Homo sapiens: one gene and its partners. The main gene of each other region encodes a partner of the protein of the gene in region 4 in a complex. Each region holds a gene or a part of one and is shown on either strand. Other genes may lie near its edges.

The links.
Region 1: MED18 (region 4) and MED4 share a complex: the UniProt entries of both Homo sapiens proteins name them as parts of the mediator complex.
Region 2: MED18 (region 4) and MED1 share a complex: the UniProt entries of both Homo sapiens proteins name them as parts of the mediator complex.
Region 3: MED18 (region 4) and MED23 share a complex: the UniProt entries of both Homo sapiens proteins name them as parts of the mediator complex.

What each region holds. Positions count from the first base shown.
Region 1 is NC_000013.11:48,085,100-48,092,132, reverse strand, and holds part of MED4 (mediator of RNA polymerase II transcription subunit 4), read left to right. Parts: intron 1-1,714; coding exon 1,715-1,781; intron 1,782-5,680; coding exon 5,681-5,851; intron 5,852-7,033. UniProt on the Homo sapiens protein: Component of the Mediator complex, a coactivator involved in the regulated transcription of nearly all RNA polymerase II-dependent genes.
Region 2 is NC_000017.11:39,406,240-39,413,272, reverse strand, and holds part of MED1 (mediator of RNA polymerase II transcription subunit 1), read left to right. Parts: intron 1-2,551; coding exon 2,552-5,798; 3' UTR 5,799-7,033. UniProt on the Homo sapiens protein: Component of the Mediator complex, a coactivator involved in the regulated transcription of nearly all RNA polymerase II-dependent genes.
Region 3 is NC_000006.12:131,625,241-131,633,087, reverse strand, and holds the start of MED23 (mediator of RNA polymerase II transcription subunit 23), read left to right. Parts: upstream 1-4,845; 5' UTR 4,846-5,038; coding exon 5,039-5,077; intron 5,078-5,415; coding exon 5,416-5,447; intron 5,448-5,604; coding exon 5,605-5,692; intron 5,693-7,847. UniProt on the Homo sapiens protein: Required for transcriptional activation subsequent to the assembly of the pre-initiation complex. Component of the Mediator complex, a coactivator involved in the regulated transcription of nearly all RNA polymerase II-dependent genes.
Region 4 is NC_000001.11:28,332,008-28,336,466, forward strand, and holds the end of MED18 (mediator of RNA polymerase II transcription subunit 18), read left to right. Parts: intron 1-2,409; coding exon 2,410-2,963; 3' UTR 2,964-3,958; downstream 3,959-4,459. UniProt on the Homo sapiens protein: Component of the Mediator complex, a coactivator involved in the regulated transcription of nearly all RNA polymerase II-dependent genes.

The DNA of each region.
Region 1 (7,033 bases), on a different chromosome or scaffold from region 4:
TCCATCTCAAAAAATAAAAAATAAAAAAAGAATGAAACACTAATCTTTACCATAACTATAAGGCCCTACGTAATCTCACCCCTAGCCACCTGGCTGCTACATCCTCACTTTGCTTTCCTCTCCCCATTGTGCCAGGCCCTGGCTACACCTCCTCAGCTCCATCTTTGGGGCACTGAACTGTCTGTGTCTTCTACTGTGCTCTTTCCTTCCAGACATCTTGGCTGACTTCTCTCATTTAATCCGTGTCTTATGTCAAAGCTGTGCCCTTAGGAAGACCTTCTCTGACCACCCTATTGAAGTAGCCAACCCACTCCCCCAGTAGTCTCTAATAAAACATTGCTTTATTTCCTTCCCAACCCTTATCACTCTAGGTTTATTTCTTCTCTTAGTTCTTCTTGTCTCTTGTATTAGAATTTAAGTGCCATTGTTCACTTTGATACCCCAAGTATCTAGAAAGTGCCTGGCACATGATAGGCACTCAATAAATATTTGATGAATTAGTGAATAAATGAAGACTTTGCATTCTTATATCTACTTTTTTCATTCATTGATTAATTCATAAATAATGGTATGGGGAAGTAGTAGTGGGAAGGGTTGGGTCTAATTGACATGATCCAGAAAAATGATATGATGCTAGCTGGAAGGAAGGTGGAAATTTGAAGGTAAAAATAGCCTGGTAGCCAGTGAGAAAGTACAAATGCTCAGGCTGATCAGAGCAGTGTCAGGTAGCTAGTTGTGAAGCTGCCCCTTCTGCATAATTTCTCAAAAGTCCCATCTATCAACAAGTTTGAAACTAATATATAAACATTACCTGCTATACATTTTTCCCAATCTTATTTTGCTCATCAGATACTAATTTTCATACAGGGAAATTGTCATATTTATTAAATGAGCATTCTAAAAGGATATCATTTTATTATGTGTAAGGATCCCTCTTAGTTGATGTTTAATTTAAAAAATTCAAATAAAGTGGAGAATCATTAAAAAATGGTCCATGCATCCCTTAATTGTTTTATTTTACCTTAAAATATATAAACATATGTTCATTCACTAATCATGTTATGTAAGACAGGAGTCAGAAAACTTTTTCTGCAAAGGCCAGATAATAAATACTTTTGGGTTTATGGGCCATATAGTCTCTGCTGTAACAACTCAACTCTGCCTCTGTATTTAGGGAAAACTGCCATAGACAATTTGTATATTAATGGGCAGACTGTCTTAGGAAAATGTTATTTACAAAAACTGCAGAAGTGCTGGATTTGGCCTGTAGACCCCTGATGTATGAGTTTTTCTTGCATAAATCGCTCATAATGCATTGTCTGCAATTTGTAGTTTGATTTCTAGATCAAATCAAAATGAGAACTTATCCTCTTATCAAGCAGTCTTAGGGCAGACCCTTAGTTTTTATGACTTTTCCCTGGTCCTTTCTTTATAGCTGTCCTTTGCAAGCCTCTGTAGAGTCTTTCCAAGCATTAGGCTTAGGTTTTTATAGAAAGAACTCTCTCTATTCACAATAGTCTTTCATTGGCATTTAGGTGATAGCTATTTATATAATGATAGTATTAAGTAGAACTTTTATAAATAAGTTTGGTAACCGGCACAAGCGAGTCTTGGTGAGCTGTAGTTCACAGTCAATAGCGGACTGTAGGGAGTAGCCCTGAGTGTTCAGTATGCTGTGAAAGGGTTTTTGTTGTTGTTGGTTTTTTTTTTTTAGGGAACTTATAGAAATGCTGGCAATTTCAAGAAACCAAAAGTTGTTACAGGCTGGAGAGGAAAACCAGGTAAGTGGCTTCTTTTTAAATTAGTTAATTTCTCTTTGTTTTTTAATTAAAAGAAAAAAACTTGATTTCTGCAAGTTTCCTCTTTATATTTACTTTGTGTGGGAACAGGAATGTTGGATCCTTTTAAGTTATTAATTAAAACTTTAATATTGGTATTTTCTTTGTATCATTTACTTAAGATAACAGTGCGCTTAAGAAGAATAGTTGCCTGAGGGTTTAGCAGTATTTTGTTATTTTCTCTTACAATTCTAGTCACACTTACATGTTTATTTATTTTTGTCCTTTGAATTAACCAAGAAAGGCTTGTTGTATGGAGATTACAACAATATTTAGAATCAAAAGTTAATGCTCAAAAACTTACCGTGTATTGTAAGTATAGTTCCCTAATGCAACTTGAACATGCAGGGAAATAAAAGAGCATACAACTCTTATTAGACATTGCCTTATAGGGGTGAAAGTACGGGCAGTTTTTATTTGCTCACTTTTCGGTGCTTTCTAATTTTCCATGGTGGGTGAACAGACTTTTTTTCCTGATTCAGAATTTTTTTAGAGGTAAGAGGATAAATTTTATATTATGTTTTTGGCACAGTTTTTTCTTTTTTGAGACAAGTTCTCGCTCTGTAGCCCAGGCTAGAGTGCAGTGGCATGATGACTGCTCACTGCAGCCTCAACCTGCTGGACTGAAGCGATCTCCCACTTATCCTCACCAGTATCTGGGACTATAGGCATGCGCTATAATGCCTTGCTAATTTAAAAGAAATTTTTTTTTTTGGTAGAGACATAGTCTCACTGTGTAGCCCAGGTCAGTCTTGAACTGTCTTGAACTCCTGTCCTCAAGGGATCCTCCCCACCTTGGCCTACCAAAGTGCTGGGACTATAGGCATGAGCCACCATAGCTGGCCAAAAAAAATGTTTAAGAGAAAATGAATGGAGAGGATTAACCTTTCTAAAGATGATGTAAAGGAGAAGAGGAGACAGTAATAAATCTTTTGTCTGCATCATTACCTTAGTTCTGTCTTACGTTTTGAGGGCAGGGAAATCTGACGGACTCAATAGAAAAGTGTCAGTGAGCCTCAAAAGGGGAGGAGGGGATCCAGATGAGGCCACAAGCTAGGAGAAACAGCTAACCTTAGGGGTAGTAAGGTTTTTGTTTTGTTTTTTTTCAAAAAAGAAAGAGGCTAGAGATAAATATGTTAATAGAAGACTACTAGTCTCTCAGGTACTCTGTTAATACCCGTGGGATTAAATAGGAATTTATACAAAGTATGCAAGAAGTAAAATGCAAGGCTTGACTTTATTTGATAGACACTTATTAAATGCTTGCTATGAGCCAGGCACACAGATTATTCAGAAGGTGATAATTAAGACCTATAATCAGCACTGATCTTTCTTGCACTTTTTAAAGAGTAGCAATTTGTGAATTGTGTCTTAGTACTGTGGATTCCTATGTAATTTTCATTGAAACTGTTACTATTAGAGAGGGATGTGCCCATTTGAAAATTTTCTAGCCACCATTTTATTTGGATATTTATAATTTTATATAGAATTTTAGAATTAGAAAGGATCTTAACGATGTTCAGTTCAACCTCCTGTGAGAATAAGCTCCAGGGTGGACGGATGAGGTAGAGGTTAATGGTGAGTGGAACCAGAACCTAGGTCTTCTGACTTTAGTTGAATAATTTTTTTCTACTGAACAATAAGATCTAAAGAGAATATTTTTTACTCATGGGTAGTATACAAATTAATTCAACCTGTGTAAACTTCTTGAAAGTTGTCAGGGAACTACTGTGTACTACTTGCTTTAATAATACAGCTTTTATAGAAATGGAAACCTAGCTTTCTCCTACGATGTGGGAGGAATGAGGATTAGAAGTCTGTTAAATAAATAGAATATACTTTACTTTTTACAGAAAAAGCTTTCTGTTGTTATTTAAAATACTCTTAATATTTGGCAGTTTGTAGCTCAGTCTTTTGTCTATTGTATTAGAAGAATTCCTATAAAATGAGAAGAACTTCATGTCAAAAGGATCTTGAAGAGGCATACCTGTACTTTTTAGTCTTCAACAAATCTTTTTAAATAGTTTTAAAATTGATTCTGAATTTTGATAGATATTTTCTTTCTGAAGTAGTATTCTCTACTTAGCACAGTAAAGGATATTTAGACTAGACTTGCATCTTAATTCTGTACTGGGGTAGTGATCGTAATAACTAGCCTTTGCTGAACTCTTCCTGTATGTACTTAAAGTGCAATATATCATGAATCCTCACAATAGCTTCATGTAATGGCTACTATTAATATTATATTCCTTTTCCTATTAAGAACACAGGCTCAGAGAGGCTGGTAACTTTCCCTGTGTCACACAGCTAGCAGATGGAGGACTAGAGATATGAACCACCAGACTTTCTATTTTATGTGTTTTAGCCTTCATGGTTTTTGCCGTATCTGCATACCACTTGTTTGTTTACTGTTTTATGAAATCACTGTATTTTTTTTTTTTTCCTGAGACGAAGTCTTGCTCTGTCACCCAGGCTGGAGTGCAGTGGCGTGATCTGGGTTCACAGCAACCTCCGCCTCCTGGGTTCAAGCAATTCTTCTGCCTCAGCCTCCTGAGTAGCTGGGATTACAGGCATGTGCCACCACCCCCGGCTAATTTTTATATTTTTAGTAGAGACGAAGTTTCACCATGTTGGTTAGGCTGGTCTCAAACTCCTGACCTTGTGATCCGCCTACCTCGGCCTCCCAAAGTGCTGGGATTACAGGCATGAGCCACTGCGCCTGGCCGAAATCACCGTATTTTTAAGATCATCTTCATTGTAAACAATACTGTGCATAAACTCAGAGTTTCAGTGTCTCAGTTTTTTCTAATATATATTAGCACAAATGTGTAAGTGTAAAAGTTTTCTTAAGTTCTTGGTGCCACCTAAAATCATCTCAAATACCAAATTTTGGGAGAACTTTCATTATTTATATATACATATATATATTTGCGATGGAGTTTCGCTCTTGTTGCCCCGGCTGGAGTGCAATGGCGCGATCTCAGCTCACCGCAGCCTCTGCCTCCGGGTTCAAGCGATTCTCCTTCCTCAGCCTCCTGAGTACCTGGGATTATAGGCATGCACCACCACGCCCAGCTAATTTTGTATTTTCAGTAGAGATGGGGTTTCTCCATGTTGGTCAGGCTGGTCTCGAACTTTTGACCTCTGGTGATTCGCCTGCCTCGGCCTCCCAAAGTGCTAGGATTACAGGCGTGAGCCACCGCGCCTGGCCTATATTGTATTTTTAAGGATAAACTTTTTTTTTTTTTTGAGACAGTGTCTTACTCTGTCACCCAGGCTAGAGTGCAGTGGCGTGATCTTGGCTCACTGCAACCTCCACCTCCCAGGCTCATGCAATTCTCCTGCCTCAGCCTGCTGAGTAACTGGGATTTTAGGCGCCACCACACCCAACTAATTTTTGTATTTTTAGTAGAGATGGGGTTTCACCATGTTGGCCAGGCCAGTCTAGAACTCGTGACCTCAAGTGATCTGCCCGCATCAGCCTCCCAAAGTTCTGGGATTACAGGCATGAGTCACTGTGCCCAGCCATAAGGATAAACTTTAAAATCGTGTCTTCCCTAGGAAATCACTAAACTTGCTCATGTTGCCATATTGCTAGTTCTGAAAGGCTAGTTTTATTTTGTTTTGTATGAAAGAATATCTGAAAAAGTAGAAAAGTTTGATATTAATGTTTCCCAAAATAATCATAGGTAGGCTCTTTTTATTCTTAACAAGAATTAGGAATAAAATTTTGAAGGTGTTGAAATTTATAGCCTAGCCAATTCAGTTACGGATTCTTTGTTTCATTGGAATGCAGCCTTTCAGTAGTCTATTGTCTGATTTAATTGACTGTTATCTGACAGGTCCTGGAGTTGTTAATTCACCGAGATGGGGAATTTCAAGAACTAATGAAATTGGCACTTAATCAGGGAAAAATTCATCATGAAATGCAAGTTTTAGAAAAAGAAGTAGAGAAGAGAGACAGTGATATTCAGCAGCTACAAAAACAGCTAAAGGAAGCAGAACAAATACTGGTAAGTTGACAGAGGTTGGTTCTTAAGGTTAAAAAGGATGTTGTTTAATCTGTTTCTGAAAAATCTGTTATCAATATTTTGAAGAGCAGAAAACTAGACTTTCCAAGTCTAAAGGTGATATCTTGTCACTCACCATTGCCAGTGGTTAAATGAAAGGCTATTGTCATTCTCTTTTTTACTTACTGTTTTCAAATAGTCTGCATTACTTGTGAGCCACATTTTCGATGCTTAAAGATTTTACAGTATTGAATTATAGAAATGGAAAGTTTTACTTTTATCCTGGTCTGATATAAATTTTAATTATCAGTAGTCTAAATCTCTCTTTTTTTTTTTTTGGTCTCTGATCCTTAGCATAAAAATCAGGGAAATTTTTCATTTTTTATATATTTTGAAATCAATAAAAATATATACACATTTTATAAATTGATTAAAATTGACATTAATTTAGTCATTCATCCTCATCTAGGTAGGATTTGGACATAGATCAAGGATCCTAGTTTTCCCTTTGCTGTTCTTGGCTACTATTTCAAAGAGGCAACTTATTTGCTATTATTTGCCCAGTTACTTCACTAAATACTAACTAATATAACATGATAGTATTGCAGAAATAGCTGAGCTTGATTCTCATGTCGACCAGACATTGCTGGCATCCTTACCACTGATTAATCTCTTAACAAATGTATTAAAATGAGCTCCAGTAACTAGAAGCCTGGGCAGTTCAGGGTAAATTAATCACCTCTACTAAGGAAACAACTCACTAGTAAATAGTTTTTAAAAATATATTAAAATCAGGCCGGGCATGGTGGCTAATGCCTGTAATCCCAGGGCTTTGGGAGGCCAACGCAGGTGGATCGCGAGGTCAGTCTGTGATTGAGACCAGTCTCAGTTCGAGACCAGTCTGGCCAACATAGTGAAACCCTGTCTCTATTACAAATACAAAAAATTAGCCAGGTGTGGTGGTGTGTGCCTGTAATTCCAGCTACTCAGGAGACTGAGGCAGGAGAATCGCGTGAACCTGGGAGGCATAGGTTGCAGTGAGCTGAGATTGCGCTATTGTATTCCAGCCCAGGCAACAGTGCAAGACTCTCAAAAAAAAAAAAAAAAAAAAAAATTAGCTGGGCACAGTGGCTCACACTTGTAATCCCAGCACTTTGGGAAGCCAAAGTGGGCAGATCACCTGAG
Region 2 (7,033 bases), on a different chromosome or scaffold from region 4:
CAAACTAACTAAATAAATAAAAATATAAAAATTAGCCAGGTGTGGTGGCAGGTGCCTATAATCCCAGCTACTCAGGAGGCTGAGGCGGGAGAATTGCTTGAACCTGGGAGGCGGAGGCTGCAGTGAGCCGAGATTGTGCCACTCCACTCCAGCCTGGTAGACAGAGCAAGATGCCATCTCAAAACAAACAAAAAGCCAACTTAATTGTTACGTGATAGTTAAGCCAGTATGCATCCCAGAACCATTAATATGTAATTTTTTGAGATTTTTCTACAGCTGGGTCTGGCAGCCTATTTTTGTAAATAAATTTTATTGGAACACTGCTGTTCATTTACATGTCTGTGGCAGATTTCTAGTTAATATTGCAGAGTAGGTGAACAGGAAACAAGACCTACAAAGCCTAACGGATTACTATATGGCCTTATAAGAAAAATTTGCGGCCGGGTGCGGGGGTCACCCCTGTAATCCTAGCACTTTGGGAGGCTGAGGCGGGTAAATCACGAGGTCAGGAGTTCAAGACCAGCCTGGCCAAGATGGTGAAACCCCATCTCTACTAAAAATACAAAAATTAGCTGGGCGTGGTGGCGGGCTTCTGTAATCCCAGCTACTTGGGAGGCTGAGGCAGAGAATTGCTTGAACCTGGGAGGCGGAAGTTGCGGTAAGCCAAGATCATGCCACTGCACTCCAGCCTGGATAACAGAGCGAGACTCTGTCTCAAAGAAAAAAAAAAAAAAAAAAAGAAAAATTTGCTGGCTGGGTGTGGTGGCTCACGCCTATAATCCCAGCACTTTGGGAGGTGGGTGGATCGCCTGAGGTCAGGAGTTCGAGACCAGCCTGACTGACATGGAGAAACCCTGTCTCTACTAAAAATACAGAATTAGCTGGGCGTGATGGCGCATGGCTGTAATCCCAGCTACTCGAGAGGCTGAGGCAGGAGAATCACTTGAACCTGGGAGGTGGAGGTTGCAGTGAGCCAAGATCGCGCCATTGCACTCCAGCCTGGGCAACAAGAGCAAAACTCCGTCTCAAAAAAAAAAAAAAAAAGAAAAAAAAATTTGCTGACATATGTTCTAGAGCAAAACGTTTGCAAACTGAGGTTTATGAATATAAATTTATCTGGAAAATAAAAAGTGCTTTGCTTTAAAATAAACAAGATTTATAACAGAAATAGCACTTTTTATAATAGTGTAGGTTTGGGATGATCTAAGTCATTAAGGTTTAGTACTTAATGGGTCAAGAGATTTTTCTTTTCTTTTTTTTTTTTTTGAGATGGAGTCTTGTACTGTCACCTGGGCTGGAGTGCCATGGCACAATCTCAGCTCACTGCAACCTCTGCTTCCCGGGTTCAAGCAATTCTGCCTCAGCCTCCCAAGTAGTTGGGATTACAGGCACCTGCCACCATGCCCAGCTAATTTTTTGTATTTTTTCTTTTTTTTAGTAGAGATGGGGTTTCACTATGTTGGCCAGGCTGGTCTCAAAACTCCTGACCCTGTGATCCACCCGCCTCGGCCTCCCAAAGTGCTGGGATTACAGGCGTGAGCCACTCTGACCGGCGGAGATTTTTCTAATGGTTCCTTAATTAAAATAAATTATGTATCCCTGTAATTACCATATGAAGCCCCCCAGAGGACGACATTTTCTTTTTTCCTTTGAAATGAAGTCTTGCACTGTCACCAAGGCTGGCGTGCAATGGGACGATCTTGGCTCGCTGCGATCTCTGCCTCCTGGGTTCAAGTGATTCTCCTGTCTACCCTTCCTGAGTAGCTGGGATTACAGCTGTGCACCGCCACGGCTGGCTAATTTTTTGTATTTTTAGTAGAGACAGGGTTTCACCCCGCTGGCCAGGCTGGTCTCAAACTCCTGACCCGAAGTGATCCACCCTCCTCGGCCTTCCAAAGTGCTGGGATTGCAGGAGTGAGCCACCGCGCCCGACCTAAGGAGGCATTTTTTTTTTTGAGACGGAGTCTCACTCTGTTGCCAAGCTGGAGTGCAGTGGTGTGATCTCAGTGCAATGCAACCTCCGCCTCCCTTGTTCAAGCAATTCTCCTGCCTCAACCTCCCGAGTAGCTGGGATTACAGGCACGCGCCACCACGCCCAGCTAATTTTTGTATTTTTAGTAGAGACGGGGTTTCACCATGTTGGCCAGGATGGTGTCGATCTCCTGACCTCATGTTCCAGCCGCCTTGGCCTCCCAAAGTGCTGGGATTACAGGCGTGAGCCACTGTGCCCGGCCCCTAAGGAGGCATTTTCTTACTGAGTTCCATTATTACCAATTTTCTTTTAGTTAAGTTTGAAATTCAATTATTTGGACTCTTGTTTATAGTTTGCTTTTGTTGTGTGATTCATAAGAGGTTGACAATTTTATGTTGGGTTAGATTTTTAGAATGTATTTACCCAAAGCTCTGGTATTTGATAGAACTATTTTTGTCTTACAGATTATTTGCCCTACCTGAAAACTGCTTACTGCAAAACTCTGATGTTATATCTAAATCTCAGGTCTCATTCAGCAGCTATTGCAATGTTAACTTTGTTTTCTTCTTTATTTTGCAGATGTATGTCCATCCCTGTGACGATGAGGGCTATTCGGAGGAAAGCTGAAACCATTCAAGCCGACACCCCAGCACTGTCCCTCATTGCAGAGACAGTTGAAGACATGGTGAAAAAGAACCTGCCCCCGGCTAGCAGCCCAGGGTATGGCATGACCACAGGCAACAACCCAATGAGTGGTACCACTACACCAACCAACACCTTTCCGGGGGGTCCCATTACCACCTTGTTTAATATGAGCATGAGCATCAAAGATCGGCATGAGTCGGTGGGCCATGGGGAGGACTTCAGCAAGGTGTCTCAGAACCCAATTCTTACCAGTTTGTTGCAAATCACAGGGAACGGGGGGTCTACCATTGGCTCGAGTCCGACCCCTCCTCATCACACGCCGCCACCTGTCTCTTCGATGGCCGGCAACACCAAGAACCACCCGATGCTCATGAACCTTCTTAAAGATAATCCTGCCCAGGATTTCTCAACCCTTTATGGAAGCAGCCCTTTAGAAAGGCAGAACTCCTCTTCCGGCTCACCCCGCATGGAAATATGCTCGGGGAGCAACAAGACCAAGAAAAAGAAGTCATCAAGATTACCACCTGAGAAACCAAAGCACCAGACTGAAGATGACTTTCAGAGGGAGCTATTTTCAATGGATGTTGACTCACAGAACCCTATCTTTGATGTCAACATGACAGCTGACACGCTGGATACGCCACACATCACTCCAGCTCCAAGCCAGTGTAGCACTCCCCCAACAACTTACCCACAACCAGTACCTCACCCCCAACCCAGTATTCAAAGGATGGTCCGACTATCCAGTTCAGACAGCATTGGCCCAGATGTAACTGACATCCTTTCAGACATTGCAGAAGAAGCTTCTAAACTTCCCAGCACTAGTGATGATTGCCCAGCCATTGGCACCCCTCTTCGAGATTCTTCAAGCTCTGGGCATTCTCAGAGTACCCTGTTTGACTCTGATGTCTTTCAAACTAACAATAATGAAAATCCATACACTGATCCAGCTGATCTTATTGCAGATGCTGCTGGAAGCCCCAGTAGTGACTCTCCTACCAATCATTTTTTTCATGATGGAGTAGATTTCAATCCTGATTTATTGAACAGCCAGAGCCAAAGTGGTTTTGGAGAAGAATATTTTGATGAAAGCAGCCAAAGTGGGGATAATGATGATTTCAAAGGATTTGCATCTCAGGCACTAAATACTTTGGGGGTGCCAATGCTTGGAGGTGATAATGGGGAGACCAAGTTTAAGGGCAATAACCAAGCCGACACAGTTGATTTCAGTATTATTTCAGTAGCCGGCAAAGCTTTAGCTCCTGCAGATCTTATGGAGCATCACAGTGGTAGTCAGGGTCCTTTACTGACCACTGGGGACTTAGGGAAAGAAAAGACTCAAAAGAGGGTAAAGGAAGGCAATGGCACCAGTAATAGTACTCTCTCGGGGCCCGGATTAGACAGCAAACCAGGGAAGCGCAGTCGGACCCCTTCTAATGATGGGAAAAGCAAAGATAAGCCTCCAAAGCGGAAGAAGGCAGACACTGAGGGAAAGTCTCCATCTCATAGTTCTTCTAACAGACCTTTTACCCCACCTACCAGTACAGGTGGATCTAAATCGCCAGGCAGTGCAGGAAGATCTCAGACTCCCCCAGGTGTTGCCACACCACCCATTCCCAAAATCACTATTCAGATTCCTAAGGGAACAGTGATGGTGGGCAAGCCTTCCTCTCACAGTCAGTATACCAGCAGTGGTTCTGTGTCTTCCTCAGGCAGCAAAAGCCACCATAGCCATTCTTCCTCCTCTTCCTCATCTGCTTCCACCTCAGGGAAGATGAAAAGCAGTAAATCAGAAGGTTCATCAAGTTCCAAGTTAAGTAGCAGTATGTATTCTAGCCAGGGGTCTTCTGGATCTAGCCAGTCCAAAAATTCATCCCAGTCTGGGGGGAAGCCAGGCTCCTCTCCCATAACCAAGCATGGACTGAGCAGTGGCTCTAGCAGCACCAAGATGAAACCTCAAGGAAAGCCATCATCACTTATGAATCCTTCTTTAAGTAAACCAAACATATCCCCTTCTCATTCAAGGCCACCTGGAGGCTCTGACAAGCTTGCCTCTCCAATGAAGCCTGTTCCTGGAACTCCTCCATCCTCTAAAGCCAAGTCCCCTATCAGTTCAGGTTCTGGTGGTTCTCATATGTCTGGAACTAGTTCAAGCTCTGGCATGAAGTCATCTTCAGGGTTAGGATCCTCAGGCTCGTTGTCCCAGAAAACTCCCCCATCATCTAATTCCTGTACGGCATCTTCCTCCTCCTTTTCCTCAAGTGGCTCTTCCATGTCATCCTCTCAGAACCAGCATGGGAGTTCTAAAGGAAAATCTCCCAGCAGAAACAAGAAGCCGTCCTTGACAGCTGTCATAGATAAACTGAAGCATGGGGTTGTCACCAGTGGCCCTGGGGGTGAAGACCCACTGGACGGCCAGATGGGGGTGAGCACAAATTCTTCCAGCCATCCTATGTCCTCCAAACATAACATGTCAGGAGGAGAGTTTCAGGGCAAGCGTGAGAAAAGTGATAAAGACAAATCAAAGGTTTCCACCTCCGGGAGTTCAGTGGATTCTTCTAAGAAGACCTCAGAGTCAAAAAATGTGGGGAGCACAGGTGTGGCAAAAATTATCATCAGTAAGCATGATGGAGGCTCCCCTAGCATTAAAGCCAAAGTGACTTTGCAGAAACCTGGGGAAAGTAGTGGAGAAGGGCTTAGGCCTCAAATGGCTTCTTCTAAAAACTATGGCTCTCCACTCATCAGTGGTTCCACTCCAAAGCATGAGCGTGGCTCTCCCAGCCATAGTAAGTCACCAGCATATACCCCCCAGAATCTGGACAGTGAAAGTGAGTCAGGCTCCTCCATAGCAGAGAAATCTTATCAGAATAGTCCCAGCTCAGACGATGGTATCCGACCACTTCCAGAATACAGCACAGAGAAACATAAGAAGCACAAAAAGGAAAAGAAGAAAGTAAAAGACAAAGATAGGGACCGAGACCGGGACAAAGACCGAGACAAGAAAAAATCTCATAGCATCAAGCCAGAGAGTTGGTCCAAATCACCCATCTCTTCAGACCAGTCCTTGTCTATGACAAGTAACACAATCTTATCTGCAGACAGACCCTCAAGGCTCAGCCCAGACTTTATGATTGGGGAGGAAGATGATGATCTTATGGATGTGGCCCTGATTGGGAATTAGGAACCTTATTTCCTAAAAGAAACAGGGCCAGAGGAAAAAAAACTATTGATAAGTTTATAGGCAAACCACCATAAGGGGTGAGTCAGACAGGTCTGATTTGGTTAAGAATCCTAAATGGCATGGCTTTGACATCAAGCTGGGTGAATTAGAAAGGCATATCCAGACCCTATTAAAGAAACCACAGGGTTTGATTCTGGTTACCAGGAAGTCTTCTTTGTTCCTGTGCCAGAAAGAAAGTTAAAATACTTGCTTAAGAAAGGGAGGGGGGTGGGAGGGGTGTAGGGAGAGGGAAGGGAGGGAAACAGTTTTGTGGGAAATATTCATATATATTTTCTTCTCCCTTTTTCCATTTTTAGGCCATGTTTTAAACTCATTTTAGTGCATGTATATGAAGGGCTGGGCAGAAAATGAAAAAGCAATACATTCCTTGATGCATTTGCATGAAGGTTGTTCAACTTTGTTTGAGGTAGTTGTCCGTTTGAGTCATGGGCAAATGAAGGACTTTGGTCATTTTGGACACTTAAGTAATGTTTGGTGTCTGTTTCTTAGGAGTGACTGGGGGAGGGAAGATTATTTTAGCTATTTATTTGTAATATTTTAACCCTTTATCTGTTTGTTTTTATACAGTGTTTCGTTCTAAATCTATGAGGTTTAGGGTTCAAAATGATGGAAGGCCGAAGAGCAAGGCTTATATGGTGGTAGGGAGCTTATAGCTTGTGCTAATACTGTAGCATCAAGCCCAAGCAAATTAGTCAGAGCCCGCCTTTAGAGTTAAATATAATAGAAAAACCAAAATGATATTTTTATTTTAGGAGGGTTTAAATAGGGTTCAGAGATCATAGGAATATTAGGAGTTACCTCTCTGTGGAGGTATTGACTTGTAATCTCATTTTCCTTTCAAAAAAAAAAAAAAAAGCTAAGGTGGCTTGTTGGGATGTAAACATGTTTTCAGATGCAGTAAGGTTTAGTGTAGGACAGCCTTCCTGACCCAGTGGCATGAAAACCATTACAGGATTAATAGTTCTCCTACTTCCACAATGTGCCAAAAGTCTGCATCCCAGCATTTTGTTTGCAGGAGAACTGATGCCATTCCTAAGAGCTGGACTCACTGTTTCTCTTCATCACAAGGAGAAGGAGTCCAAACTTTAATCACTCCACTGTATGCTCCCTGAGATAAAACAGTAAAAAATCCGCAGCCATAGTTCACTTAAAACAATTTCAAGCTCACTTTTGAA
Region 3 (7,847 bases), on a different chromosome or scaffold from region 4:
GTGGGGACACAAAGCCTAACCATATCACCAACATACTACTGACTCTTACTCTGTATCTTTACTAAGTGATTCCTTATGTTCTACACTGCCAGAATTTCACTTCTCTCTTCCTTCATCCTCATCCCTCATCCCTTTTCTCTTTTTTTAATTAAAAAAATTGTGGGTACATAGTGAGTATATCCCTATCCCCTTTCAACCCTGAAAAACACACAAAAAAATCCTAGGTGGGGAAGTCAGGGGGCCTCTGATAAAGGCTTAGCTTGTAAGTGACTGTCTGTGTTACAAATTAAGTGATTCTGGACATTGAATTCTTCATTTTTAAGAATTATCAGAGATTATTAGATTATCTCTAAGTCACTAAATTTTGGATATGATAATAGGGACACATCCTAGTCCTTCAGGTCCTAAGATGAATAAACCTCAAGGAATCTACCTATGTATAATACAAGTAGGTATAGTGAAGATGGTTGGCATTGCCAAGTTGCTAGCCATATTTTTGGCTATAACAATTTCTCTAACTGAACTCTAAACCCCAACCTCTTTTGAGTCTTTCAAGTTCTAGAAACTTATTCCTGGCTGGATGCAGTGGCTCACACCTGTAATCCCAGCACTTTGGGAGGCTGAGGCAGGAGGATCACTTATGTCAGTTTAAGACCCACCAGGGCAACATAGTGAGACCCTGTCTCTACAAAAAATGAAAAATAAAAAATTATCCAGGAGTTATGGTGCATGCCTGTAGTCCTAGCTACTCGGGAGGCTGAGGTGGGAGAATATGGGGAGGATTGCTTGAGCCCAGGAGTTTGGGGCTGTAGTGAGCTATGATGGCACCACTGCATTCCAGCATGAGCAGCAGAGTAAGACCATCATCTCAAAAAAGAAAGAAAAAAAGAAAGAAAGAAACTTAACAGTTCACCTGATCAATAGACACAAGCCAAAACCACACCTTCCATGCAAGTTAGACTTTGGAATAGACTGCCTGTGTCACTTAAATCTGAACCTACACTTTCTAAGTTAACTGGACCTTGAAAGTTTGCCTATTCTTTTCTTCTTTAACTTTAGAACAATCTGTACCTTCTCTTCTTTTCTTCTTCAACTTCAGAACAACCTGTACCTTCTTGGTTCTGAAACTTTACTCTGAACATTAAAATGTTCAGAGTAATTTGTAAGTAAGTTAATGGCTTAGAACGCTTGCATTCTGAGAGGCAGCTACCATTACATCACCCATCAATGTAAACCGTAAACATTCCTCATGTTACAGAAGGTCTCAGTGTCCACAGAATTCTGGCAACAAATGGGTTGTTGTTGTCTCAGAAAAGCCCTAGGGGCCTGCCAACATCAACTTCTTTGTCTCAGGAACCTGCCCTTCCTGGTTCCAGTGCTAGATCTTGGGTGATAGGTGGACAAGCTAGACTGGGAGAGCCCAGAGAAACTAATCGCACTGAGGAGGGTGGTAGAGGTGAGGCGGATGCTAGGCTCAGGTCCAACAGCAAAAGGAAGAAGGAGTCCACAAAGGAAGGGAGACCTCACATAATAACATAATGCCAGAGATAGATGGGCAGGTGACTAACTTCAGGGAGGGCCAGTCATGAGGAAAAAGCAGAAAAACCTACAAGGAGATTGACAAGCACACAAAGCAATCAGAAAGCTAACCAGGTAGGCAGTTGGTATAGGAAGGACAGAAGCTAATCCTCAGCAAGTGGAGATCCAACACTGAAGCTGAATTGAGAACTGGCTGTCTTGGTGAGACTGATGTCAGCAGTGCCAAACCAGGTCTGAGAGGCAATGGTACACACCAGGAGACAAAGCAGACACCCAGCATGGAATAGAGAGCCCAGCTCTAGTCCTCCAAACAATGACTATGGCAAAGTAGAATCAATGGTCACAGTTTGATACCGCTGTTTGCCAGTACCTATGTGTGTGAAAAGATATTTTCTGACTAAATAAGTAAAAATCTCATTACTGATCAGCACAATGAACATCTATAATCAATTTGGAGATGAGAAACCTGATGTGATGACTCCTGTGGTGTAGCAATTGTTTTCTACTGAACGATCAGCATTCCTAAGGTTGTCTCTGGTTCATGGAAGACTGTTTCTCTTACTTTGTCTCAAGTACAGAAATATTCCCTAGTAGTGTTAGATTTCTAGGAGCCCTTTCTTGTTCATTTTGAAACTCAGAAATCTTTGGATTTCCAAACATTTTCCAGGTTTTCATAGGCTCTTCTCATTTTTAGTGTACTCATGAGGGCCTCATTTATGACTCAAATTCTAGAGATGTCTCCAGAAGAGACATTATAAAACAACCATGCTGCCTGGGCTCTCCGAGGTAGAGCTCAGTGTCACAGTGCTCCCACGGTGCCCATCCATGAAGCAGAAGGTACAGGCCACGTACTGTTTACATCTCTGAAACCTGGCATGAACCAAGTTATTTCCCCAAACCTTTAAACTCCTCTCTGCCGTGTCAACTCCGTGGTGGCAGGAACTAGGTCAGTTTGAGCTTACAGTCTTGTTCTAGTGTCTAGCACAGTGGCCAACACCTAGAAGACATTCAATGAACACTTGCTGAATAAATTTTGTAACGGTTTCAGAAATAACATTAGAAGTATAAGCTACCACATACATAAATGTCCAGTGAACCCAACTGTTATAAATTATAATAACTTTACTAGGTATAACTTTGTAGGTGTTCCAAATCTTTCTCTACATCCAGCATTCCAGAAATAGCTATTACCTCAGAGGAAGTCTTGTCCATAAAATAAAGGCACTTCAGATGTTTTTATTCTACCCAAAGTAATGAATAATGACTGAGCACCACCAAGTACCAGACTTTATGCCAGGTGTTAGGAAATGCAGGCATGTTTAATTTCTGTATCTACTCTAAAGAGCTTTAGTCTAGTTGAAGAAGTAGACATTTTAAACCATAATATAGTGTAATCTGTGCAATACTAGTAGTGCTAATAAAGTGCCAGGAGGAAAGAGGAAGAAATACAAATTTTTCTACAGAAAGGGATTTAGAAAGATATCTACGTGAGTTTGCTCAGACTGCTGTGAATAGCATACTATAAACTGGGGTGATTCGAGTCTCAGCAAACTGAACGCTGAGAACTCAGGCTTCTTGTTCCTTTTGGCTGCAAGAAGGTTGGCAGCCAGTCAGAACTTTACCCACTTGTAAGAGATCAGGCTTCTTGTTCCTTTTGGCTGCAAGAAGGTTGGCAGCCAGTCAGAACTTTACCCACTTGTAAGAGATTAGATGTATCTTCCTTGGTGATTCAGACCAGCCTAAGGGGAAAGACCTGATGATACCAACTTTGGGGATTCTCCAAGAAACAATGTCCCCAGAACACACTATAAAGATGCTCAAAGTTGATAAGCCCTGCCCAGCTGCTCAGAGTTTCCAGTTGGCTCTTTAGTCCCCCACTCTAAATCCTGATAGGACAAGGATGGAACAAGAAGCCTGAATTCTCAGCTTTCAGTTTGCTCAGACTCAAATTACCCCCCAGTTTATAGTATGCTGTTCACAGCAATCTAAGCAAACTCCCCTAGGTATCTTTCTAAATTCCTTTCTGTAGAAAAATTTGTATTTCCTCCTTTTCTCCCTGGCACTTTATTAGCATCACTAGTATTGCACATATCACACTCTATTATGGTTTAAAATGTCTATGTCTTCAACTAAGCTAAAGCTCTTTAGAGTAGATACATGGGCCCTAACCTGACTGATGTCCTTCTAGGAAGAGAAAATTACGACACAGACATGTACAAAGGGAAGACCATGTGAAGACACAAGGAGAAGAAGGTCATCTACAAGCCAAGGACAGAGGCCTCTATAGAAACTAACCCTATCAACCTCAACCTCAGACTTCCAGCCTCCAGAATTACAAGAAAAGAAATTTCTGTTGTTTAAGCCACCCAGTCTGTGGTATTTTGTTATGGCAACCCTAGCAAACAATACCCTAAGCCTAACTTTTCAAGTTTTTCTCCAGCAGGAAATCTGAATTATTTCTTTTCAGCTTTTAGTAGCTATTGTGTGGACAACATGGTTGCATGTGCATATTAAAGTTGTTAGAAAACTAAATTTATGCCAGGTCAGACACTTGTATAACAAAACCATGAATGGGGAGTCATCAGCTCATCACTTAGCAGCTACAAAGGAGTAGTTCATGCTTAGCAGTTTGTGGCATTTCACAACCGTCAAAGAAGTGAAAGGCCTTTGGATGTCTATGACTCTCATCAACAATTTTCTTTATGAGGCAAAGAAAGCTGATCATTCAAGACATAACAGATGTTTTAGGGGTTGGTGATGATGGTGGCATATGAAGAAAAACACATACTCTCAACAATATAATAGCAAATAGAATCTAGCAATATATTAAAAAGGATAATATATTATGACCAAGTAGCATTTATACCATAGAAGCAAAATTGGTTTGGCATTCAAAAGTCAATCAATTACATTTGCACTGAGGTTATCATAGCTGAGAAGACACCGTCTCTGTGGCTTCAGCTCCTGGCTGCAGGCCGCTGATGGAGGTCCAGAAGGTCAGCTGCTCACAGACATCAACTTGGTGTCGGCTGCGGCTCCAGCATTTTCCGCAGGCTGCAGCTTCTGGGTTCCAAACTTTTCATTTCTCAGTCTGCAAGCGGGTTAGCCCCGAACAGGAAGCAACTCCTTCTCCAGCCGGGAGGTGGCGGCCTGCGGTCGACGATGCCTCCGGGGTCCTTGGGCTCAAGGTTCCGTTTGGGGGCGCTCTCGTCCGGCTTGCGGGCCGCCCTTCTCCACAGACGGAACCTTCTGGTGGCGCCGCTGGTTTCTGCGGGGTTTGCAAACGGCGCGTACCGGGCCCTTCCCGTCTTCCGTACAGGTTCCTGCTGTTGGCTGGGCTCGGGAGGGAACGCTCCAGGTAAAGCGCTGGGGGAGGAAGCGACGCCGAGGAGCTACGGTTTCCTCCAGAGGTCTCCGCCCCTCTGCCCCTATATTCCCAGAGCTCGAGTCTGATCCGGGCCTTGCCGGGCACCCTGGAAAGGCGGGGGTGATAGTACAGATGGAGACGCAACTGCAGAGCATTTTCGAAGAGGTGGTGGTGAGTGCAGCTGCCGGCCATCCAGGACTACGGCTTGGGGACGGGGAGACGCGGGGGCAGCCGACCAAGGAAACTGGCCTGGGCAACCTCCTCTCACGCCTCCCTTTTTATTCCCTTGTTTTGACACCGAGGTTGTATGCGGGGAAGTTTAGTGATTCTCAAACTGCTGTCAAGTTCATTGTATCCTTTGAAATCGATACAGTGACAGGCCAGACAGGTATTGATAGTTTCAGAGCTGATTAAGGTGACTTGCCCTGTGTTACATTGTAATACTTGGCTAAGGGAGGCGCCTTTTTAAAATTAACATTGTTTACATTTTGTTTTTTTTTTTTTTACAGAAAACGGAAGTTATAGAAGAGGCTTTTCCTGGGTGAGTGTATGCGTGGCAGAGTTTTGTGTTTTTATGTGATTGTGTCTGTCAGATTTTACTTAGTTTCGTGTTGGAAGGTTATAAGATCCACTATTCTGATTGTGTGTAATTACCTTTTTAAAACGAATGACAAATAATGTAATTTTTATTTTTTTAGCATGTTTATGGATACTCCTGAAGATGAGAAAACAAAACTAATTAGCTGTTTGGGGGCCTTCAGACAGTTTTGGGGTGGTCTTTCTCAGGTGAGCGCTTCATTTTTAATACATTCAGCTGATGATTTTTGGCCTCTTCTTTTTTTTTTTTTTTTTCTTTTAACATTTACTTTCATGCTGCTCTTAAGATCTTCCTGAGAAGGGAGAAATAAAATTGTTATCATTTTTTATTCTGGCTTCCATTTGTTTTAATTTGTATATTTCAGTGGAAAACCTGTGTTGAGAAGTCAAGTTGATACTGCACAGTGTGAGATGTTTAAAAAAAAAAACCTCCCCTATGTTAGATTAATTGAGATCATTTTCATCCTATTCGGATTTATTTGGTACACTTGAAAACAGATATGTTAAGCTTTACTTGTCAAGGATACAAATTCCATTTTTCTGCTAAATAAAGGAATTGGCACAGCATTGATACAAAGATGCTACAATAGGAATACCAAGATTCTATAATAAGGATAGGAAAATATTATAGTAAAAATGAGGAGACAAACTGTAAAAGTAACAAAGAACAGCTACCAGAAAATGTATCCGTGAAAAAGACAAAAATGTGTCATCCTCGAAGAGCTCACATTGCAGTAGTGCCTTACCTTCTCATGGTACACTATAGGTAGGGAAATGAGAACTGTTTGCGTGTCAGCCACTGGTGATAAGATTTGCCACTCAGACATGGATCATATAATGCCAATACAGTCATGTTTTAACCTTTTTGTTTAGTTGTTTTCTAATAGGTAATACATTTATATGGTTCAAAATGCACAGGTATAAAAGGGTGGATCCAATAACTAGTCTCTTTCTCTTCTCTTACCTGTTATTTTTTCTGTCTGTAGCCAATATCCTCAGGTTATGTTTTCTTCTAGAAGTATTTTATGCATATAGAAACACTTTTATAGCATGATCATATACCATGTACACTGTTCATTAATTAGCACTTTTTTTCTCCTAATAATAATCTACAGGTAATTCCCTATCAGTCCAAGCGTTACTTGTTCCTTCCTTTCTTACTTTTTTTTTTAAATAGCAGCATAATATTCCATTGTATGGCTGTACCTTCCTCCTTTTAACCAATCTTCTACTGTCTTCTAAGTTTCTTCTTACTTTTTCTAATTTAACCAATGCTGTGATGAATAATATTATGCATGAAAAATAGGATAAATTCCTAGAAATAGTATTGCTGAGTCAAAAGCCTTATCAGTTTGTAATTTTTATAGAAATTATTAAATTTTCCATAAGGGTTATACTAGTTTATGCTTCCACCAGCAGTGTTTGAGATTATCTTTTTCTTTTCTTTTTTTTTTTTTTTTTTGGAGACAGAGTCTCACTCTGTCGCCCAGGCTAGAGTGCAGTGGCGTGATCTTGGCTCACTGCAACCTCTGCCTCTCGGGTTCACGCCGTTCTCCTGCCTCAGCCTCCCGAGTAGCTGGGACTACAGGCACCTGCTATCACGCCCGGCTCATTTTTTGTATTTTTAGTAGAGACGGGGTTTCATCGTGTTAGCCAGGTTGGTCTCGATCTCCCGACCTCATGATCTGCCCACCTCGGCCTCCCAAAGTGCTGGGATTACAGGCATGAGCCACCGCGCCCGGCTGAGAGTATCTTTTTCTTATAACCTCACAATAGAGTGTTAAGCTTTTTGATCTTTGCCAATCAAAAACATGAGAAATTTTATCTCAGTATAATTTTATTTTGCATTTCTCTCAGTGATGTTGAATATCTTTCCAAAATTTAAAAAAAAATTCATTAAACACTTTATGAATTATGATGTGGCCCTCTAATGGAGAGACCAGGAAGAAAATAGGTATTTCCAAATCATTGTTATATGTGCCACAATAGAAGTATGTATGAGAACAGTGGTTGTGGAGAGAAGCAGAACATTATAGGCTCTTTTTGGAGATAATCCTAGAAGACAAACTTTGATACGGGCACAACATTTTGACATCGTATTTAAAGTTTTGCCAGTCTAGAAATGTGACATGTCATTGGATTCATAATGGGCTCTTGTTTGGGATCTTAGGGATTGGATTCACACCTAATTCTCCTAAGCCTGATACATACTGATCCATAATGAATTTTACCCCCAGTGACAGTAATATTTATATATGCCATAAAGGGCACTGTTTACAATGCCTTACAACAATCTGTGTTAAGAGTTTTCTATTGACCGTTAATATGTTAACTAATTAATTAC
Region 4 (4,459 bases):
GCTGGGATTACAGGCGTGAGCCACCGCGCCCAGCCAGATTTTGTAAACAAGTATCTGAATATGTTCCTAACATTTGAGCCATAGCCATGGAGGCAGAAAGATGACTAAAAAAATGTATGTCAAGCCAGCTGTTACAGGCTTATGCCTGTAATTCCAGTTGTTTGGGAGGCTAAGGCTGCAGTACTGCTTGAGTTCGGGAATTCAGGATTAGTCTGGACAACATAGCAAGAACTCATCTCTACTAAAAAAAAAAATTAGCTGGGCATGGTGGTGCGCACCTGTAGTCTGAACCACTTGGGAGGCTGAGGCGGGAGGATCACTTGAGCCCAGGGGATGGAGGCTGCAAAGAGTTATAATCACGCCACTGCTCTATAGCCTGGAGACAGAGTGAGACCCTACCTAAAAAAAAAAAACAAAACTATGCCATAAAAATAAAGCAGGAAAGTGGCTAGAGATTGGTAGGACACATACTATTTTATTAGGGTGATCAGAAAAGGCCTTGATGATAAAGTCACTTGAGCAGAGACCTGACAAAAGTGATAGAGTAGACATGCAGATGGGAAGAACATCCTAAGCACAGAGAATAGGAGAAGGGGTGTGGCAGGAAGGTCACTCCTGGAGAGAATGATCAAGGGGAGGAATAGAAGGAGATGATGTTTGGCAGGTAGCAGAGACCATAATATGTAGGGCCTTGTTGACAACGGTAAAGATGTTGGCTTTTATTCTGAATGACACAGGAAGCCACTGTAGTGTCCTGAGTAGAGGAGTGTTATTATCTGCCCAATAATTTAATAGACCATTTGGCTTTCATATGGAGAAGAGAGGAAGAAGGCAAAGGTAGAAAGAGGCGATTGCAAAGACCAGGCAAGAAATGAGGGTGACTTCATTTGAAGGGACTAGGTTGAAGTGACCAGATGAGTGAGAAGTGATTGCATTCTGCATTTATTTCAAAAATACGGATTCAATGGAGGGTATGAGAGAAAGAAAGAGGGTGTGAGTCAAAGATGATTTTCTGGTTTTTGGCCTGGGTAACCAACTAAAAACAGAGAGTTGCCATTTACTGTGATGTTGAAGACTGTAGGGTGAATAAGATTTTGGAGGAAAAAATCAACAGTTTGATATTGAACATGTTAAGATAAAGATGTCTGTTAGGCATCCAAGTGAGGAAACTGAGTAGGAAGTTGGATGTTTTCATCTGTAGTTCAGAGATAAAAACGTGGGAGTCCTCAGGGCCTAAATGATATTTAAAGCCATGGGACCAAATAAAGTCACCTAGGCAGGAAAAGAGTATTGATACAGAAGAGGACCAGGATTGAGTCCTAGTCCTCCAGTGTTTGGGGAAGATGAGAGAGACCAAGCAAAGAAGACTTAAACGGAATGGTCAGCAAGTTAAGTGAAGACAAGAAAGTTGTGTCTCAGAGGCCAAGGGAAGAATAGATTTCATAGTGGGTATAATCTACTGTAACAATTATGTCAGATGTTGCCAAGAGGATGAAGATTCTATGAAGCAATTCACTCTCTTCTACTTACATACAGAAGAGGAAAACTTTTCCTGATAAAAAGGAAACTTTAGCCAGGTGCAGTGGCTCCATGCCTGTAATCTCAGCACTTTGGGAGGCTGAGGCAGGCGGATCACGAGGTCAAGAGATCGAGACCATCCTGGCCAACATGGTGAAACCCTGTCTCTACTAAAAATACAACAATTAGCTGGGCGTGGTGGCACACGCCTGTAGTCCCAGTTACTCAGGAGGCTGAGGCAGGAGAATCGCTTGAACCCAGGAGGTGGAGGTTGCAGTGAGCTGAGATCGCACCACTGCACTCCAGCCTGAAGACAGAGCTAGACTCCGTCTCAAAAAAAGCGGGGGAGACTTTATATTTCTTCTATAAATGGAAGACTTTGATTTGTTGGAAATAGAAGGCAATTGTTAAAATATATAACAACAAAATAGTGTTATTGGCTGGGCATGGTGGCTTGTGCCTGTAATCCCAACACTTTGGGAGACCAAGGCCAGGAGTTCAAGACCACCCTGGGCAACATAGTAAGACCCCAACTCTACAAAAATAAATAAATACATAACTAAAACAGTATTATTACATTCTAGATAGACACTGTCGCTGATTAAAGGCTCTAAGCCCCAGGCCTGCTGGAGATGAGCATTAGAAGAGGCCTAAAGACTTTGTAGTGCTAAATAAGAAAATTCCAAAAAAATTGAAAAGGAAAATAACTTTCTCACAACGTTATACAATACCTTGGTAGTGTAATTTCTGTAAAATCTCATGTTTGGCTGTATGTTTTATGAAATGCTTCACTAAACTGTTTTGGTTTTTCATTTAAGTTTTTTCAATTGTATACTAACTCCATGACCTAAAATGAAAGACAGGACTCAGTGGTGCTTTTTCCGTTTTCAGGAAGTGTTTTAGATCACAGTTTGGAAAGCCTCATCCACCGCCTTCGTGGTTTGTGTGACAACATGGAACCTGAGACTTTCCTTGACCATGAGATGGTATTCCTCCTTAAGGGCCAGCAAGCCAGCCCATTTGTTCTCAGGGCCCGACGCTCTATGGACAGGGCAGGGGCACCCTGGCATCTGCGCTACCTGGGACAGCCAGAAATGGGAGACAAGAACCGCCATGCCCTGGTGCGAAACTGCGTGGACATTGCCACATCTGAGAACCTCACCGACTTCTTGATGGAAATGGGCTTCCGCATGGACCATGAGTTTGTTGCTAAGGGACATTTGTTCCGTAAGGGCATCATGAAGATTATGGTGTACAAGATTTTCCGCATCCTGGTGCCAGGGAACACAGACAGCACTGAGGCCTTGTCACTCTCCTATCTCGTGGAATTAAGTGTGGTAGCACCCGCTGGGCAGGACATGGTCTCTGATGACATGAAGAACTTCGCAGAACAGCTAAAACCTCTGGTTCACCTAGAGAAAATAGACCCCAAGAGGCTCATGTGACTAAGAGGATCTGTCCACATTTGGGGCCTATCCTTACTTGTTTGAAAAAATATGTTTGCTTTTTTTGGTTTTTGTTTTGTTTTGTTTTTGAGACAGAGTCTCGCTTTGTTTCCCAGGCTGGAGTGCAGTGGCACGATCTCGGCTCACTGCAACCTCTGCCTCCTGGGTTCAAGCAATTCTCCCACCTCAGCCTCCTGAGTAGCTGGGATTACAGGCACATGCCACCATGCTCAGCTAATTTTTGTATTTTTAGTAGAAATGGGGATTCACCATGTTGGTCAGGCTATTCTCGAACTCCTGACCTCGTGATCCACCCACCTTGGCCTCCCAAAGTGCTGGGATTACAGGCATGAGCCACCACGCCTGGCCAAAAAAATATGTTTTAAATGTCCCATTTCACCATTGCCAGGCAGGCATTCTTCCTTCAGGGAGAGGATGGTGAGAATTAATTGGTTCTTTGCACTGTTCTCCTCATGTGGCGATTTCACTTTCATGACAGCCTTTCTATATTAAAGGCTCAGGATGTCACGGAGAATCTATCTAATCCCACTGTATTAAGAGGGGAAACCGGGCCAAGCGCAGTGGCTCACACCTCTAATCCCAGCACTTTGGGAGGCTGAGGTAGGTGGATCACCCAAGGTCAGGAGTTTGAGACCAGCCTGGCCAAATGGTGAAACCCCATCTCTACGAAAAATACAAAATTTAGCCGGGCATGGTAGCAGGCGCTTGTAATCCCAGCTACTTGGGAGGCTGAGGCTGGAGAATCGCTTGAACCCAGGAGGTGAAGGTTGCAGTGACCAGAGATGACGCCATTGCACTCCAGCCTGGGTGAGAAGAGCGAAACTCCGTCTCAAAAAAAAATAAAAATGAAGAGGGGAAACCAGAATAAATTATCTTTTGGAAAGGACAATTTCTTGTTTGGCCATTTGTGTATAAGGTTGGTAACATTAGAGGCTGTGAGCTTGTGTTACATGGTAATAAAGCCAATGAAGAGACATGTCTGTGTAATTCTGATTCTTTATTCCCTTACCCTGTAAATTTGGGGTAGATTCATTACCAGTTGAAGCAAAAAAAATGACAGTTCCTAGTTTTAATTGTGGCAGAGATGAGGATGAGAGTTTTCACCTTTCATAAAAGTAGCATATTTATTGTTGAAAACTTTTAAAATATAGTACAGATAGAAAATAACACCTATTATCCAAAGAGAAGTACTAGTTCTATTTTGGTATATATCCATCTAGTCTTTATTTTTTTATAAATTTATGTATATGAAATGTGTTTATTTTATAAAAAGATTCCATATATACTGGTTTATAACCCTTTTTTCCCATTCATCTATCATTAACATCTTTCCAGGACATTTGTCTACACTCCCCTTTTGTTAAAAAAAATTTTTTTTTTTTTTTGAGACAGAGTTTCGCTCTTGTTGCCCAGGCTGGAGTGCAGTACTGCGATGATCTCAGCTCACTGCAACCTCCACCTCCCAGGTCCAAGTG